Linked DNA regions of Homo sapiens. Each later gene encodes a partner of the first gene's protein in a complex. Each region holds a gene or a part of one and is shown in the gene's direction. Other genes may lie near its edges.

Evidence for each region. Proteins that work in one complex are often made in the same cells at the same time.
Region 2: the proteins of INHBB (region 1) and BMPR2 are in contact, whole or in part, in a crystal structure (PDB 7U5O), measured with the Homo sapiens proteins. Residues at the interface, in NP_002184.2 of Homo sapiens: Phe309, Asn318, Asp319, Ile322, Ala323, Pro324, Gly326, Tyr327, Tyr328, Thr379, Met380, Ser381, Met382, Leu383, Phe385, Asp386, Asn390, Ile391, Val392, Lys393, Asp395, Ile400; in NP_001195.2 of Homo sapiens: Tyr40, Tyr67, Leu69, Val80, Lys81, Trp85, Ser86, His87, Ile88, Gly89, Asp90, Gln92, Ile108, Gln109, Tyr113, Phe115.

Annotation. Positions count from the first base shown.
Region 1 is NC_000002.12:120,341,683-120,349,565, forward strand, and holds the start of INHBB (inhibin beta B chain preproprotein), read left to right. Parts: upstream 1-4,453; 5' UTR 4,454-4,506; coding exon 4,507-4,954; intron 4,955-7,416; coding exon 7,417-7,883. Other genes in the region: translation initiation factor IF-2-like, read left to right, coding at 2,240-2,345, 3,205-4,232. UniProt on the Homo sapiens protein: Inhibins and activins inhibit and activate, respectively, the secretion of follitropin by the pituitary gland.
Region 2 is NC_000002.12:202,379,159-202,386,326, forward strand, and holds part of BMPR2 (bone morphogenetic protein receptor type-2 precursor), read left to right. Parts: intron 1-7,168. UniProt on the Homo sapiens protein: On ligand binding, forms a receptor complex consisting of two type II and two type I transmembrane serine/threonine kinases.

The DNA of each region.
Region 1 (7,883 bases):
AAAGGCCAGCTTGACCCCCAACCCTAGGAGGCACTCTTGGCTGGGTTCTCCTTCCCACCTGGCTCCAGGCTGAGGCCGTCCATTGCCAGTGTCCAGGGCTGCTGGCTGAGCAGGACACTGCTGCACTGGGCCTGGCACGCACCTCCTCTGTGCAGAGATCGAGTTGCTCTGGAGAGGTGTGACATATGATGGTGAAACTTGGCAAGAGTGGCTTCAGTGACAGAAAAATACATGCCAGGTCCCTAAGCCCAACTCTGCCGAAGGCCTTCTTCCAGCCAGAACCCTAGTGCCTAGTGGTGCAAAGACCTTCTCTCCACTCCACACCTTGCAGGAGCTGCAGGGCCAAGAACTGCACCTGGGTTCTCAATTTGTTTTGCAAATGAGCCCTAAGGCTCACGTATATGGTTTGCCTTGTCACTTTTGGACGTTTCCATCATCCTCAACAGATAGTGATGGGTTATGCAAAAAAAAAAAAAAAAAAAAAAAAAAAAAAAAGGCGTGCGTGAGAGGAAGTGCTCTGTACTCTTCCAACTTCTGCAAGCCCGAATCTACAGTGTCGCCATGTTTCCTTCCTGCCTTCTCCAAGGAGTTCCTTGATGGCAGCAGGGAGCCAGCATCCTGCATTAGGGTGGCCTGGTCTTGCAGCTGCTTGGAGGGTGTTGGCTACGGCACTGATGTGCATTATTGTATTCAAAACTGACAGACGCAGTCACATCCTTAGCCGAGATGGAAGGCTGAGTTTACCAGTACAAGGAGAACCAAGCTCGATGCTAAATGAGGCTTTGAAGCAACAGGAACAGGTCCTTGCCCCTCAGGAGGGGAAGGGGAGCCCCCCCCAGAAACACAAGGTGATTTGGAAGAACTCAATTTACACCCTTGGCTCCCGTGGGCTGGGGGATCAGCAGAGGGCAGGATAATCCCAGCTTCTCGAGCAGATGGTTTCTGACTACCGCTTGACCCAGTTCCCTCCCAGCAGATGACTGGCAGCGGGGCTGACAGCTCCTCCACTAGGGGAGCAAAGTGTGGACCCTCCTCCCAACCTCCTCTTCCCTCCTCCCACCAGCAAGGACACGGCGGCTTTTGCCCCTCCCTGGTGCCAGGTCAATGGGCAGGATGCTGCATCTTCTTGAAGGCTTGAAGGCAGGGAAACCTCACCCATATTCTCTCCCTTTCCACAGCCCTGTCCAGCCCAGGTGGGGCTGACAATGAGAAGGGCTGGCCAGGAACACTCCTGTGAGGGCTTGTGTTGGGGAGTGGGGGTTGTGAACTCCTTCATTGGCTTTATGGCTTCTCTCATTTCTTCATTCAATCATTACTTCAATAAGTTCTCCCTGATCATCTGCCAGGTCTGGCACCAGATAGGGCCCAGGAAGTCTGCTTCCCATGCAGGAGACAGACAAGGGAGGAGATAACAGCCAGGCACTGGGCTGAGAGCCTCACTCAGGTAAAAAACTATACAGGGCACAACCGGGTCAGGGAAGGCTTCGCCAAGGAGGAGAGACTGGGCTGACTCTGAGAGCCTGAGAATGAGTTTGTCAAGTAGCTGGTGGCTGTGGTGACGGAGACAGCCGGGTGGGCAGATGCAAGCAAAACCAGGAGGTGGCCAGCCTGGCTCAAGGCCACCATGCAGGAGGTGCTTCCCAGGAGGCAGAAGCTCCCGGGCCACAGGCTCCCAGGCAGGGCAAGGGCAACCTGATGGGAGAGCAGAGACTCTGGCCCTGGTGGAGATTCTAAGGAGGCAGAAGGGCTGCCATCTCGGGGATCCTCCTGGATCCCTGCTTCTGACTTCGGTCGGCAAACTCACACCCGCCCTAGTTTTGCCCGCCAGCTTCGGGTCGGTTCCTCCGATTGGGAGGGAGGGGGCGCTCGGCTTCCAGACTTGCAGGCCGCCGCGGGCCTGCGGTCCCGGCCGAGCTCCACGGTGGCAGGGCTGGCCCGAGAGACTGGCGGTGGGAGGCGGGGGCAGGAGGCCACGCTCCGCCTCCGACGTCCCCGATTCCCCAATATCCTGGGAAAGCCAGGATGAACTCCCATCGTGCTTCTGCCTTGAGTCTAGCCCGTTGCGAGGGAACGGGGTACGGCTCCGTGTCCTGTGGGCATTGTCATGCGGCCCCAGACCCGGGTGGGGGCGTGAAGAAGGACAGAGGAGCGCATTGCACTTGGGGCCCCGGACGGGTCTGAAAGTCAAGTTTCCACTGACAGTGTTCCTTGTCCGGTGGCCTGAGAACGGTGACCCTAGAACCATCCTTTATCGGGTTGTGTGAAGAGCCTGGCCCAGTTGCCTCGCTGGGCCTCCCACCCAGCCCCTGTGATACAGGTGTTACTGTCCCTTCACAGAAGAAGAGGTAGGCGATAGGAAAGGTGAGGACTCTATCCAAGGTCACTCCTGCAAAGCTGGCAGTGGCTGAGCCCGAGTGGAACCCGGGTCTGAGTGAAGCCAAAGTTTGTCTGCTGGCGAAAGTGGGAATTCCCTGGGGGTGGGGGTGGGGGTGGGGTACTGTAGACCCTGCCAGCCCCTCAAGCCCTGAGGCTCAGTGGCCTCCGGGCCGCGCGCCTGGGATCCCGCACAATCGGGGCGTTCCTCCTGGCCCAGCAGACGCAGCCGCTGGCCAGGCCTCCAGTGGCTACTGCCTTCCCGCCCTCCAGCTCGCAGGGTCCACGCCTCGGCCAGTGCGACGGCGGCCCGGGGAGCTGGGTGAGGGCACTGCAGCCCCAGAGCGGCAGCCGCCGGCGGAGCCTGCCTCTGGCATCCCAGGCCGCGCCGCACCCCGCTCGCCTCGCCAGGCTCGGCCGCGAGGGAGCGCCCCGGGAGGGCCGGGGGCGGCCACGGCGGCGGGAGTCGCCTCTGCTGGTTGGGGAGGGCGGCAGCTGGGACAGAGGCAGGGCCTGCGCGGCGGCGGGGAGGCGGGAGTGGGCCGGGAGGAGCGCCTGGGTCCAGCGCCTGGAACCCGTCGGTGCCGCCGGCCGCCCAGCTGGGCAAGGGTCCGGGGCGCCCACGTGGTGGGAAAGTTTCGAGGTAGCAAAAGTAGCCCGGCATTGCGGGGGGTGGGAGGGGAGAGGAGGGGAGGGGAGAGGGCCGGCTCGCCCCTCCTTCTCGGGAAGGCAGAAAGGAAAAAAGCGGTGGGAAGCAGGGGTGAGCGCGGGGAGCGGGCAGCCCCAACCTGAACAGATTCCGCTTTCTCCTCCTCCCCCCACCCCGGGAAGCTCGAGCGGGGAGGTACGGACCGTCTCCTCTCGCACGGGCAGGACGACACCCTCCCTCCCCCCCTTTTTTCTGCCAACGTCTATCTCAACGCGCGCGCACATACGGAGATTGTGCGGCTTTTTTCCCCCTTGGGAGAAAAAACGGGGAGAGTAAAAGAAGAGAGACCAAAGAGAAGAACTCCTCCTCGGCGAGCTCCGCACTCCGTGCCGCGGCCCGGCGCGGGGACGCCGCCGCCGCCCGCCCGCTCTCTCCCGGCCCTGCGGCGGGTGCCAGTACGAGCGCGAGCGAGGGCACTGCACCCGGGGACGCTGCGAGACTTTTCGGCGCTCGAGCCGACCTCGCCGCCGCCGCGGCAGGCAGAAGAGACAGGAGCGAGAAGGGCCCTGCCTCCCCCTCGCCTTCCTCGCCCGGCGCCCCGCGCCCGGCCGGGCCGCGCAGGCAGGCGGAGGGAAGGAGGGAGGCTGCGAGGAGGCGGGCGGAGCAGAGGCCCCGGCGAAGCGCGCTGCGGCCGCCCGCCCGTGGATGCGGCGCCCAGGGATCCTGGAGACAACTTTGCCGTGTGACGCGCCGGGAGGACTGCAGGGCCCGCGGCCGAGGGCTCGGCGCCGCCTGTGAGCGGGCCCGCGCGGCCGGCTCTCCCGGGCACCAAGCTTGCTCCGCGCCACTGCCCGCCGGCCCGCGGCGAGGACGACCTGCCCGTCTCCGCCGCCGGCGGCCCTTCCTGGCGCGAGGCAGTGAGGGCGAGGCGCTCAGGTGCGAGCGCGGGGCCCCGCCGCAGCGCCCGCCGCAGCGCCGCGCCAAGCCGCGCCCGGCTCCGCTCCGGGGGGCTCCAGCGCCTTCGCTTCCGTCTCAGCCAAGTTGCGTGGACCCGCTCTTTCGCCACCTTCCCCAGCCGCCGGCCGAACCGCCGCTCCCACTGACGCTGCTTTCGCTTCACCCGAACCGGGGCTGCGGGGCCCCCGACGCGGAAAGGATGGGGAGAAGGCTGCAGATGCCGAGGCGCCCCGAGACGCCCGTGCGGCAGTGACCCGCGACCTCCGCCCCGCCCGGCGCGCCCCTCGGGCCCCCGGGGCCCTCGGCGCCCCTTCCCTGCCGCGCGGGAACCCCCGAGGCCCGGCCGGCCCCCTCCCCCTGCGAGCCGGCGGCAGCCCTCCCGGCGGGCGGGCGGGCGGAGGCCCGGGCGGGCGCGGGCGCGGGCGGGGGCGGGGCGGGGCGGCGCGCCCGGAGCCCGGAGCCCGGCCCTGCGCTCGGCTCGACTCGGCTCGCCTCGCGGCGGGCGCCCTCGTCGCCAGCGGCGCACCATGGACGGGCTGCCCGGTCGGGCGCTGGGGGCCGCCTGCCTTCTGCTGCTGGCGGCCGGCTGGCTGGGGCCTGAGGCCTGGGGCTCACCCACGCCCCCGCCGACGCCTGCCGCGCCGCCGCCACCCCCGCCACCCGGATCCCCGGGTGGCTCGCAGGACACCTGTACGTCGTGCGGCGGCTTCCGGCGGCCAGAGGAGCTCGGCCGAGTGGACGGCGACTTCCTGGAGGCGGTGAAGCGGCACATCTTGAGCCGCCTGCAGATGCGGGGCCGGCCCAACATCACGCACGCCGTGCCTAAGGCCGCCATGGTCACGGCCCTGCGCAAGCTGCACGCGGGCAAGGTGCGCGAGGACGGCCGCGTGGAGATCCCGCACCTCGACGGCCACGCCAGCCCGGGCGCCGACGGCCAGGAGCGCGTTTCCGAAATCATCAGCTTCGCCGAGACAGGTGGGTCCGGCCCTCCGGCTGTCTGCCGCGGTCCCCGCTCGCTCCCGCTCTCCCTCTCCTTGCTAGCTCCGGCTGCCACCGCCGCCACCGCAGCCCGCGCGCCCTGGGGCAGCCTGGACTCCCGGCAGAGCTCCTTCGGCCGTGGCCCTGCGCGCTCCGCCCGGGTTGCAGTCCTCTTCCCCCAGGCCGCAGACCCTTGCCTGCTGCCTCAACCCCCCGCCGCCGATCGCCTGGCCCTCCACCCCTGCTCTCCGGAATCGGGCCCCAGCGCCTCTGGGCGCGCGTCCCCCTCCCGGCAGATGCGCGCGGCCCTGGCTCTGCGGGCACTTGCTTGGTGATTGCTTAATGTTTTTGTTTCCCACGATCGGAGTGTAGGCTTAGCAGTGTGGATGGAGATGTGTGTGCTTGTTGATATACGTGGGCCGGAGGAGAGAGAGAGTGTGTGTGTATCTGTGTGTGTGTCTGTGTGTGTGTGTGCCTGCGTGAGAGGCCCCTGGGGCCGCTTCCATCACCGGCGGCGTGGGCTTGCCAGGATTGCTGAAGCCTCGCTGGGGAGAGCTAGGCAACCTCTCTTCCGATTGTGTGGGCACCGGAATCGGGCGGAAGGCAGGCTTCTCAACAGGTCCATCATTTACACAGAGAAAGCCGCGGTTCGGGGACAGCCCCGTGCCTCTCGGCTTGCCTGGCAGCTGCAGCAGACCCCTCGCCCGAGAGGCAGAGTCGTAGTTAACAAAGGGTATGGCTCCTTTCTGGAATCCGCCCCCCCCCCCGGCCCCAGATTGCAAATCTCTAACACTGTCTAAATATAAAAATCAGGGAGAGAAAAATCTTTCGGAACTTTAAAAGAAGGAGAAAAATGTGCCCGCGCCAAAATGCTGCAAGTGCTTTCGACTCCGCTGTCCTTTTCAGGACTTGAATGAGCCAGGCTGGCTTTTGTGCCTGGAGCTCGGCCCCATTTGTGCCGAGGGGACTGCGGAGAAGGTCGCAGAGGGGGAAGCCCCGGTGCAGTTAGGGCGGGGGCAAGCGGGGAGCCTCGGTGGGGGGAGCGGTTGTGCCCCTGGCTGCAAATGCCCCCCACCCCACCAGGCAGCAGGCAGCCCGGGGATGAAAAGGGATGAAAAGTTTTGCATGGCCGGGTGTGGAGAAAAGCAGAGACAATCGGGGCTGGTTTGTGCTTAGAAAGAAATGCATTGCCGTTTTAGCTGTCCACTAAAGTGAGTCAGGGAAAGCTCGCCATGCAATTAGAGGGCTCGGATTAAAAGGTGCTTTGGGGCCCAGAGTTAGAAATGTGATTCTGGAAGGTCGAGGAGGCCTTTTGGTCCCGGTGGCACAAAATGACAGCGGGGGCTGTTATATTTCTGGTCCGTTTCACGGAGCCAGCTCTTTGACTTATAAATAACAGATTCAGGTCACAGGCAGCTCGTCCAAGACCAGCTTTTAAGGCTGCAGTTTCCCCCATTTCAAAGTCAGATGTCAGTGTTATTAGAGGAGCCAGGCGAGGCCTGAGGTAGGGGCTTGGGAGGGGCATGGTGGGAGGTTTGATAAAACCAGCCCTGACCACAGAGTTTCATTATTTGTTCTTCCTGAAAAAAAAAAAAAAAAAAAAAAGGAAAGAAAAACGTAGATTGTCAGAGGCAAGGGTCACCGGAATGTAGGATGAGAGGGGAGTCATCTCTTGATTGGCACAGCCTCCTTCTTGTTGAGCTGAATTATTGAGAAAATTAACTAGCCAGCTCCCCTACTCCTTGGGGATTTTGAACGTGCCATTAACAGGGAGCCAGAGTCTTGTCAAAGGATTGGACCTCAAGTTTTAAGGCTGAATGTCCTGTCCCTTGAAACTATTCTATAAGGGCTAGGCTCTGCAGCCTGCAAAGCACACGTTCCTATGTCAGAAACCTGAGCAGAGCCTGCTTGTTTGCAGTGGAGGTTCCACTGGGGGTTGGATCACATCATACTTAGGTAAACACTGGAAAGAGGCGGTAGGTGGCTCAGCTTGATTTTGCAATGCGCTAAGTTAACCAAAAAAAAAAAAAAAAAAAAAAGCCCTACTAAAACCACCCACCCCAAAATCCTCCCTGCGATCCTGGTTTTGTTTTTCAGATTTCACAGATACCCATAACAACTTGTTAAGATCTTGGCCCCCTGACAAGTTCTTCTGTTGTGCTTTGAGGCCTGACAGCCTGTCTCCAGGGAGCCCTGGCCTGGGAGAGGTGAGGCAGGATTTTATAGGCGCGGACCCTCCAGCCCCAGCCTGGTCCGGGTTTCTCAATGAGAAACGATTTTCTCTGCCTCTCCCAGGTTACAGTCAGAGGCCCTGGCCCCAAGAATGGTATTTCTGGTCAGTAACGTTTTCCAGCTGTGTGGCGAGTTGCATTCCAGCATCCTGCAGCAGAGAGTGTGTTTCCCCCATTGCCTTGTGTTCTCCTTGAATTAACTTGGCTCGCCCTTCCCCTTTTCCGCAGATGGCCTCGCCTCCTCCCGGGTCCGCCTATACTTCTTCATCTCCAACGAAGGCAACCAGAACCTGTTTGTGGTCCAGGCCAGCCTGTGGCTTTACCTGAAACTCCTGCCCTACGTCCTGGAGAAGGGCAGCCGGCGGAAGGTGCGGGTCAAAGTGTACTTCCAGGAGCAGGGCCACGGTGACAGGTGGAACATGGTGGAGAAGAGGGTGGACCTCAAGCGCAGCGGCTGGCATACCTTCCCACTCACGGAGGCCATCCAGGCCTTGTTTGAGCGGGGCGAGCGGCGACTCAACCTAGACGTGCAGTGTGACAGCTGCCAGGAGCTGGCCGTGGTGCCGGTGTTCGTGGACCCAGGCGAAGAGTCGCACCGGCCCTTTGTGGTGGTGCAGGCTCGGCTGGGCGACAGCAGGCACCGCATTCGCAAGCGAGGCCTGGAGTGCGATGGCCGGACCAACCTCTGTTGCAGG
Region 2 (7,168 bases), about 82 Mb from region 1:
ATTTGTGAAGCTGGATTTCAGACCTGTAACAGTAATGATAATAGCTAGTATTTATTAAGTGCCTGCCATGCACCATCAGCTATTCAAATAACTTTACATATATTTTTTCATTTCGTCTTCATGACAATTCTATGTTGTAGGTTATTATCATTCCCCTTTTCCATAGAGGGAGAGTAAAGTACAGAGAATTTGAATAACTCACCACACAGTCAGTAAATTATGGAGCCAGGATTATAGTGTGCGCCCTCACATACCACATTAATGGTAACAGCAGCACTAGCAGCAACAACTTCTCATCTTATTGGATATATGAGATGGAGTAATTAGCCTTCACCAGATCAACCTTTGTAAAGAAGCAGGGACACTTACAAGGTGTTAGTGCAGCAGTGGTTATGCAAATGTCGTAGTTCTGAACATGTAAAACTTTGCTTGGCCTAATATTGAAGTGGCTAGTGCAGCTTCATTAAGTGCAAGCTGATTAGAGAGGGCCTGTGTGGATTTGGGTTACACAGATGCAGTGATGTTAACTCGACAGGCGCAAATGGTGCAGCTGAACAGGAAAATAAATCCTAGAAGACTGATTGATAGCACATCCTTTTTCGGGGTCATGGATAAATCATTTCTTTTGATTCCCTCTTTCTCACTTATTGAGTTCTTGGACTCCTTAATTCTTAGAACATTTTCTTTCTTTCTTTCTTTCTTTCTTTCTTTTTTGTTCAGACAGAGTATCACTCTGTCGCCCAGGCTGGAGTGCAGTGGCACGACCCTGGCTCACCACAACTTCCGCCTCCCAGGCGCAAGTGGTTCTCCTGCCTCAGCCTCCAGACTAGCTGAGATTACGGGAGCCCACCACCATGCCCAGCTAATTTATTTTTATTTTTTGTATTTTTAGTGGAGACGGGGTTTCACCATTTTGGCAGGGTGGTTTCGAACTCCTGACCTCGTGATCCACCTGCCTCGGCCTCCCAAAGTGCTGGGATTACAGGCATGAGCCACCACACCCCGCCTAATTCTTAGAACATTTTCTATGCCCCCCCCAAAAAAAAAAACAACTTATGAAAAATAAGATGTGCTGGCTTGGTTTATGAATGAATTCTTAATAAAAGAATACAACACAGCTATTATTTAAAGGTCAACTTCTGTAATGCGTTTTAAATAATTCACTTGATTAGATTGCAATTTTACATACATCTCTTGAGGAACACACACATTATATAAAGTAAGATTAATCTAATGTTAGTGAATATTACTGAGTAACTGAAGTTTAGTAATCTTCATTTTAGTTTTTCTCAAAGTGTGGGTACTGCAACAGAATTACCTGGGGTTCTTGATAAAAATGCATATTTTTGGCCCTATAGTCCAGATGTACTGAATGAATCTCTCTGGGAGAACCCCCGCAAAGTCTCACTCAAGCAGGTGCTTGAGAAGCACTGCTTTATATCATCAGTCCTGATTGTTTGGATTTCTTTCTTTTTTTTTTTTTTTTTGAGTTTTGCTCTTGTTGCCCAGGCTGGAGTGCAATGGTGTGATCTCGGCTCACTGCAACCTCCACCTCCCGGGTTCAAGCAATTCTGCCTCAGCCTCTCGGGTAGCTGGGATTACAGGCATGTGCCACCACTCCTGGCTAATTTTGTATTGTTAGTAGAGACAGGGTTTCTCCATGTTGGTCAGGCTGGTCTTGAACTCCTGATCTCAGGTGATCTGCCCGCCTCGGCCTCCCAAAATGCTGGGATTATAGGTGTGGGCCACTGTGCCTGGCCCTGGCCCTGGCCCTGGCCCTGGCCCTGGCCCTGGATTTCTTTCTTTCTTTTTTTTTTTTTTTTTTTTTTTTTTTGAGACAGAGTCTGGCTCGGTCACCCAGACTGGAGTGCAGTGGCGCCATCTCAGCTCACTGCAACCTCTGCCTCCCGGGTTCAAGTGATTCTTCTGCCTCAGCCTCCCAAGTAGCTGGGACTACAGGTGTGCACCACCACACCCGGCTAATTTTTGTATTTTTAGTAGAGACGTGGTTTTACCATATTGGCCAGGCTGATCTCAAACTCCTGACCTCGTGATCTGCCTGCCTCTGCCTCCGAAAGTGCTGGGATTATAGGCATGAGCCACCACGCCTGGGCTGGATTTCTTAAATATGGTGATTCAGTGACATTTTGCTGTGTAATTATTGGCAACCACAAAATCTTAGTGGCATGCAACAATAGGCATTTATTCTGCTCCATGTGTCTCTTTCTGGGGTCCAGGCTAGAGGGAGAAGTAACATCTATCTGGGGGAGGCTTGTGTCATGGCATTGGCAGAAGTGCAAGAGGCCAAGCCCAACCCTACCAGCACATTTCCAGACTCTGCTCTCCTAACATCCCATTGGCTGACCGAGTCATATGGCTAGGCTAAGCTCAGAAACAAGAGGTATCAAAGTACACTTTGCCTGTGATGAGGCTAATGTAATATTTGGATATATAGTACTATTGCAGAAGAACGAAGAATTGAAATTCTCAGTAGACCACATATAACCAGTAAGATGGTCCAGAAGGGAGGCTTTTCTTACCCTTTGAAGAGGGCCAACCTCTTAATTAGTTTTTTGCATTAAAATGATATAAACTTTGGTCTCTACAAAAGCTATTCTGGCATGTGGGATGATGTGATAGTAGTGGTATTGATGTGGATGAGTAGTGAGGTGAGAGATAACTGTTCACACAAGACAAAACCTTTCCTTCATTAAAGGCCAGTTTTTTTTTTAACAAAAAGAGAAGAAATTGAATATTGATCTCTAATGGGTAAATTCTAACCATTAAAAAAATACTGAGTGGAATCTGTGTGAATCAGTTAATTTTATAATTGGCCACACCACTTATTTTGGCACCTACTCATAGATTGCTGTGCTGCTGGATATCAGTTTTTGTTTTTGTTTTTTTTTTTTTTTTTTTGAGATGGAGTCTTGCTCTGTCACACAGCCTGGAGTGGAGTGGCACGATCTCGACTCATTACAACCTCCACCTCCCAGGTTCAAGCCATTCTCCTGCCTCAGCCTCCCGAGTAGCTGGGATTATAGGTGTGCACCATCATGCCTGGTTAATTTTTGTATTTTTAGTAGAGATGGGGTTTCACTATGCTAGCCAGGCCGGTCTCGAACTCCTGATCTTGTGATCCACCTGCCCTGGCCTCCCAAAGTGCTGGGATTACAGGTGTGAGCCACCACACCCGAAATTTTTTTATTTTTAGTAGAGATGGGGTTTCACCATGTTGGCCAGGCTGGTCTCAAACTCCTTACCTCAGCTGATCCACCCACCTTGGCCTCCCAAAGTGTTGGGATTACAGGTGTGAGCTACCGCACCTGACCAGGTATCAGTTTTATGTATTTGCCTTGTCCTTCCTACTGATAATTGCTTCCAGAGGACAGTATTCATGTCTGATTAGTTTTATAATTTAGTAGACATTTAAGAAATACTTAGTGAATGAATAATAAATAGGAATTTCAACCAGGAATATTCTAGGGTTGTTTATTGACTCAAATAACACACCAATAACTTTTTCTTTGTCCTAGTTCCTTCAACTATAAAGTATGTAGTTTAAGAGGTATAGTGGGAAGACCACTGTTGGGAGTTAATGAGACCTAGATTCTATATGATTCCGGGCAAATAGGTTACTTAACATAGTTTTCTTACTTGTAATAATATGGGGTTGTACTTGATCATTTTGAAATACAGATTCATGGGTACCCCACTAGACCTACTGAATCCAAATCTCTGGACAACGAGCCTGGGAATCTGCCTTTGATGCCCTCATCAGCCAGTAAATTTTAGGTACCTTTGAGAACTACTGGATCTAAGATTCTTTCTAACTCTCAAGTTCTATAACTTTATTTCTACTTTTTGTGGTAATTACTACTTAATCTATATCTTTTATTGCTTAATCTGGTAAACATTAGGAACAAACATTTCTTAATTTGTGCATTAAGCAATTACCCAAAATCTTTTCCTTTTAAAAATTTGCAGTGTGGCCTGGGCGAAGTGGCTTACTCTGTAATCCTGGCACTTGGGGAGGCCAAGGCAGGCGGATCACTTGAGGTCAGGATTTCGAGACCAGCCCTGCTGTACAAAAAATACAAAAATTTGGCTGGGAGCTGTGGCTCACACCTATAATCCCAGCACTTTGGGAAGCCAAGGCGGGCTGATAACCTGAGGTCAGGAGTTTGAGACCAGCCTGACTAACGTGGTGAAACCCCGTCTCTACTAAAATACAAAATTAGGCCAGTTGCCATGGCTCACGCTTGTAATCCCAGCACTTTGGGAGGCCAAGGTGGGCTGATCACCTGAAGTCAGGAGTTCGAGACCAACCCGGCCAACGTGGTGAAACCCTGTCTCTACTAAAAATACAAAATTAGCCGGGTGTGGTGGCACATGCCTGTAATCCCAGCTACTCGGGAGGCTGAGGCATCGCTTGAACCTGGGAAGCGGAGGTTGTGGTGAGCCGAGGTTGTGCCTTTGCACTCCAGCCTGGGCAACAAGAGCGAAACTCTGTCAAAAAAAAAAAAAAAAGAAAAAAACAAAATTAGCCACGCGTGGTGGTGCATGCCTGTAATCCTAGCTACTCAGGAAGCTGAGGTAGGAGAATCACTTGAACCTGGGAGGCGGAGGTTGCAGTGAGCCGAGATCGTACCACTGCACTCCAGCCTGGGTGACAGGGCGAGACTCCATCTCAAAAAAAAAAAAATTACTATTTTCAAAAGCACTAATATTGGCTGGGCCTGGTGGCTCATACCTGTAATCCTAGCACTTTGGGAGGCCGAGGCTGGTGGATCAACTGACGTTAGGAGTTTGAGACCAGCCTGGCCAACATGGTGAAACCCCATCTCTACTAAAAATACAAAAATTACCCGGGCGTGGTGGCGGGCGCCTATAATCCCAGCTACTTGGGAGGCTGAGGCAGGAGAATCACTTGAACCCAGTAGGCAGAGGTTGCAGTGAGCCAAGATTGTGCCACTTTACTCCAGCCTTGGCAAAAGAGTGAAACTCCATCTCAAAAAACAAAACAAAACAAAAAAACACTGATATGAAAGATTATATGCATGCCTAGAATCACAATGCCCAACACTGTACCTTAACCCTGCCTTGTGCATCAGTAACGTTTAAAATACATTACCCAAATTATCAAGATATAGTGCAAAATGTGTGCAATCATTCACGTCTTAAATGTGTCGACGGTGGACTTGGTGGAAAAATTATGAGACATGATAAAGTATTGTGCCAGAGGCATTGGCCTAAGAATTTTAGATGGAGTTAGGTATTTGGGACAGTTAGGTATTTGATCCACATCTCTTTCTGGAAGGTTAGATGCAAATGGAGGTTGAGAAATTTCAGTTTCTTTCTTTCTTTCTTTCTCTTTCTTTCTTTCTTTCTTTCTTTCTTTCTTTCTTTCTTTTTCTTTCTTTTCTTTCTTTTCTTTCTTTCTTTCTTTCTTTCGACGGAGTTTTGCTCTTGTTGCCCAGGCTGGAGTTCAATGGCAAGATCTCTGCTCACTGCAACCTTCACCTCCCGGGTACAAGTGATTCTTGTGCCTCAGCCTCCTGAGTAGCTGGGATTACAGGCATGCACTACCACACCCAGCTAATTTTGTATTTGTAGTAGAGACGGGGTTTCTCCATGCTGGTCAGGCTGGTCTCGAACTCCCGACCTCAGGTAATCTGCCTGCCTCAGCCTCCCAGAGTGCTGGGATTACAGACGTGAGCCACCGCACCTGGCCAAGAAATTTCAGTTTCTTAAAACCAGATCTCACTTCCCCTTTCTCCTTCAAGACAGTAGTTTGCCCTTATAATTGGTGTCAAAAATGTACATGATCATGTACTTTCATTCTGCCCCAGTAAGTTTAGTGCAAAATAGGAAAATTTAGAACAAAATGTGTTAATGATAAGTGTGAAGGGATGTATAAATATTTGGCCAGTAATCCAAATTCTTCAGTTTTTTGTTTCATTTAGATGAGGAAATAGTTAAGACTTTCTATTATTATTAATCTGTGTTCAGTCTTTGCTTTTGTAAATAAGAATAGTCTGTGAGCAAATCTATGTAATTGTAGTAGACACACCAGGCTAACCTTTTAGGGCAAGCTTTTTTTTTTGTTTTCATTTGAAAAATTAAGAGAAAAAATATTAATCTTCACACAACCCTAACACTTTTTGTTTTGGTATGTTTTCTTCTAATTAAAAAAAAGATGCTTTTTTTTTTTTTTTTTTTTTTGAGACGGAGTCTCGCTTTGTTGCCCAGGTGGGAGTACAGTGGCGTGATCTCGGCTCACGACAACCTCCACCTCCTGGGTTCAAGCGATTCTCCTGCCTCAGCCGCCCGAGTAGCTGGGACTACAGGTGTGCGCCACCATGTCCGGCTAGTTTTTGTATTTTTAGTAGACACGGAGTTTCACTGTGTTGGCCAGGCTGGTCTCGAACTCCTGACCTCGTGATCTGCCCGCCTCAGCCTCCCAAAGTGCTGGGATTACAGGCGTGAGCCACCACGCCTGGCAAAAAAAAAAAAAAAAGCATGTATTTTTATATGGTTGTGATTTTATAATATCTATTAATTATATCTGTTTTTTTTACATAGAATAATATAGTCATGTATATGTGATCTTAATAACTATCATTTTTTCATAATTGTGTGATATTCCATTGAGTGTATTTGTTATTTACTTAATTCATATTGGGAGATGTTTAGGTTGTTTCCGATTTTCTTCTCTAATAAACAATGCCATATTTAATACTTCTGTGCGTATGTCCTGCTTGTTGTTTGATTTATTTCCAAGTTCTTGTTTTGACCTATCTGTAGCATGAGCCAATTTAATCCTTTTTTTTCATCCTTCAAGTACTTTCTTCATTTGGCTTTTAAGATACTATTCTCTCTTGATTTTTCTCCTACCTCACCAGCAACTTTGATAGTTCCTCCTTATGTCCCTGATGGCTAAATGTTGTGTTTCAGGATTCAGTCTTTAGACCTTTTCTCTGTCTGCACCCACCCTCTTGGTGATCTCATCCAGTTTTATGGCTTTAAATAGCATCTAAAGGCGTACAAGTTTCAAATTTATTTCTATCTCAGACTTCTTTCCTTGAAATTCTGTTGCATGTAGCCAACTGTGTATCTGTCGTATCTACTTGGATGTCTGATATTCATCACAAACTTAACCTGTCCA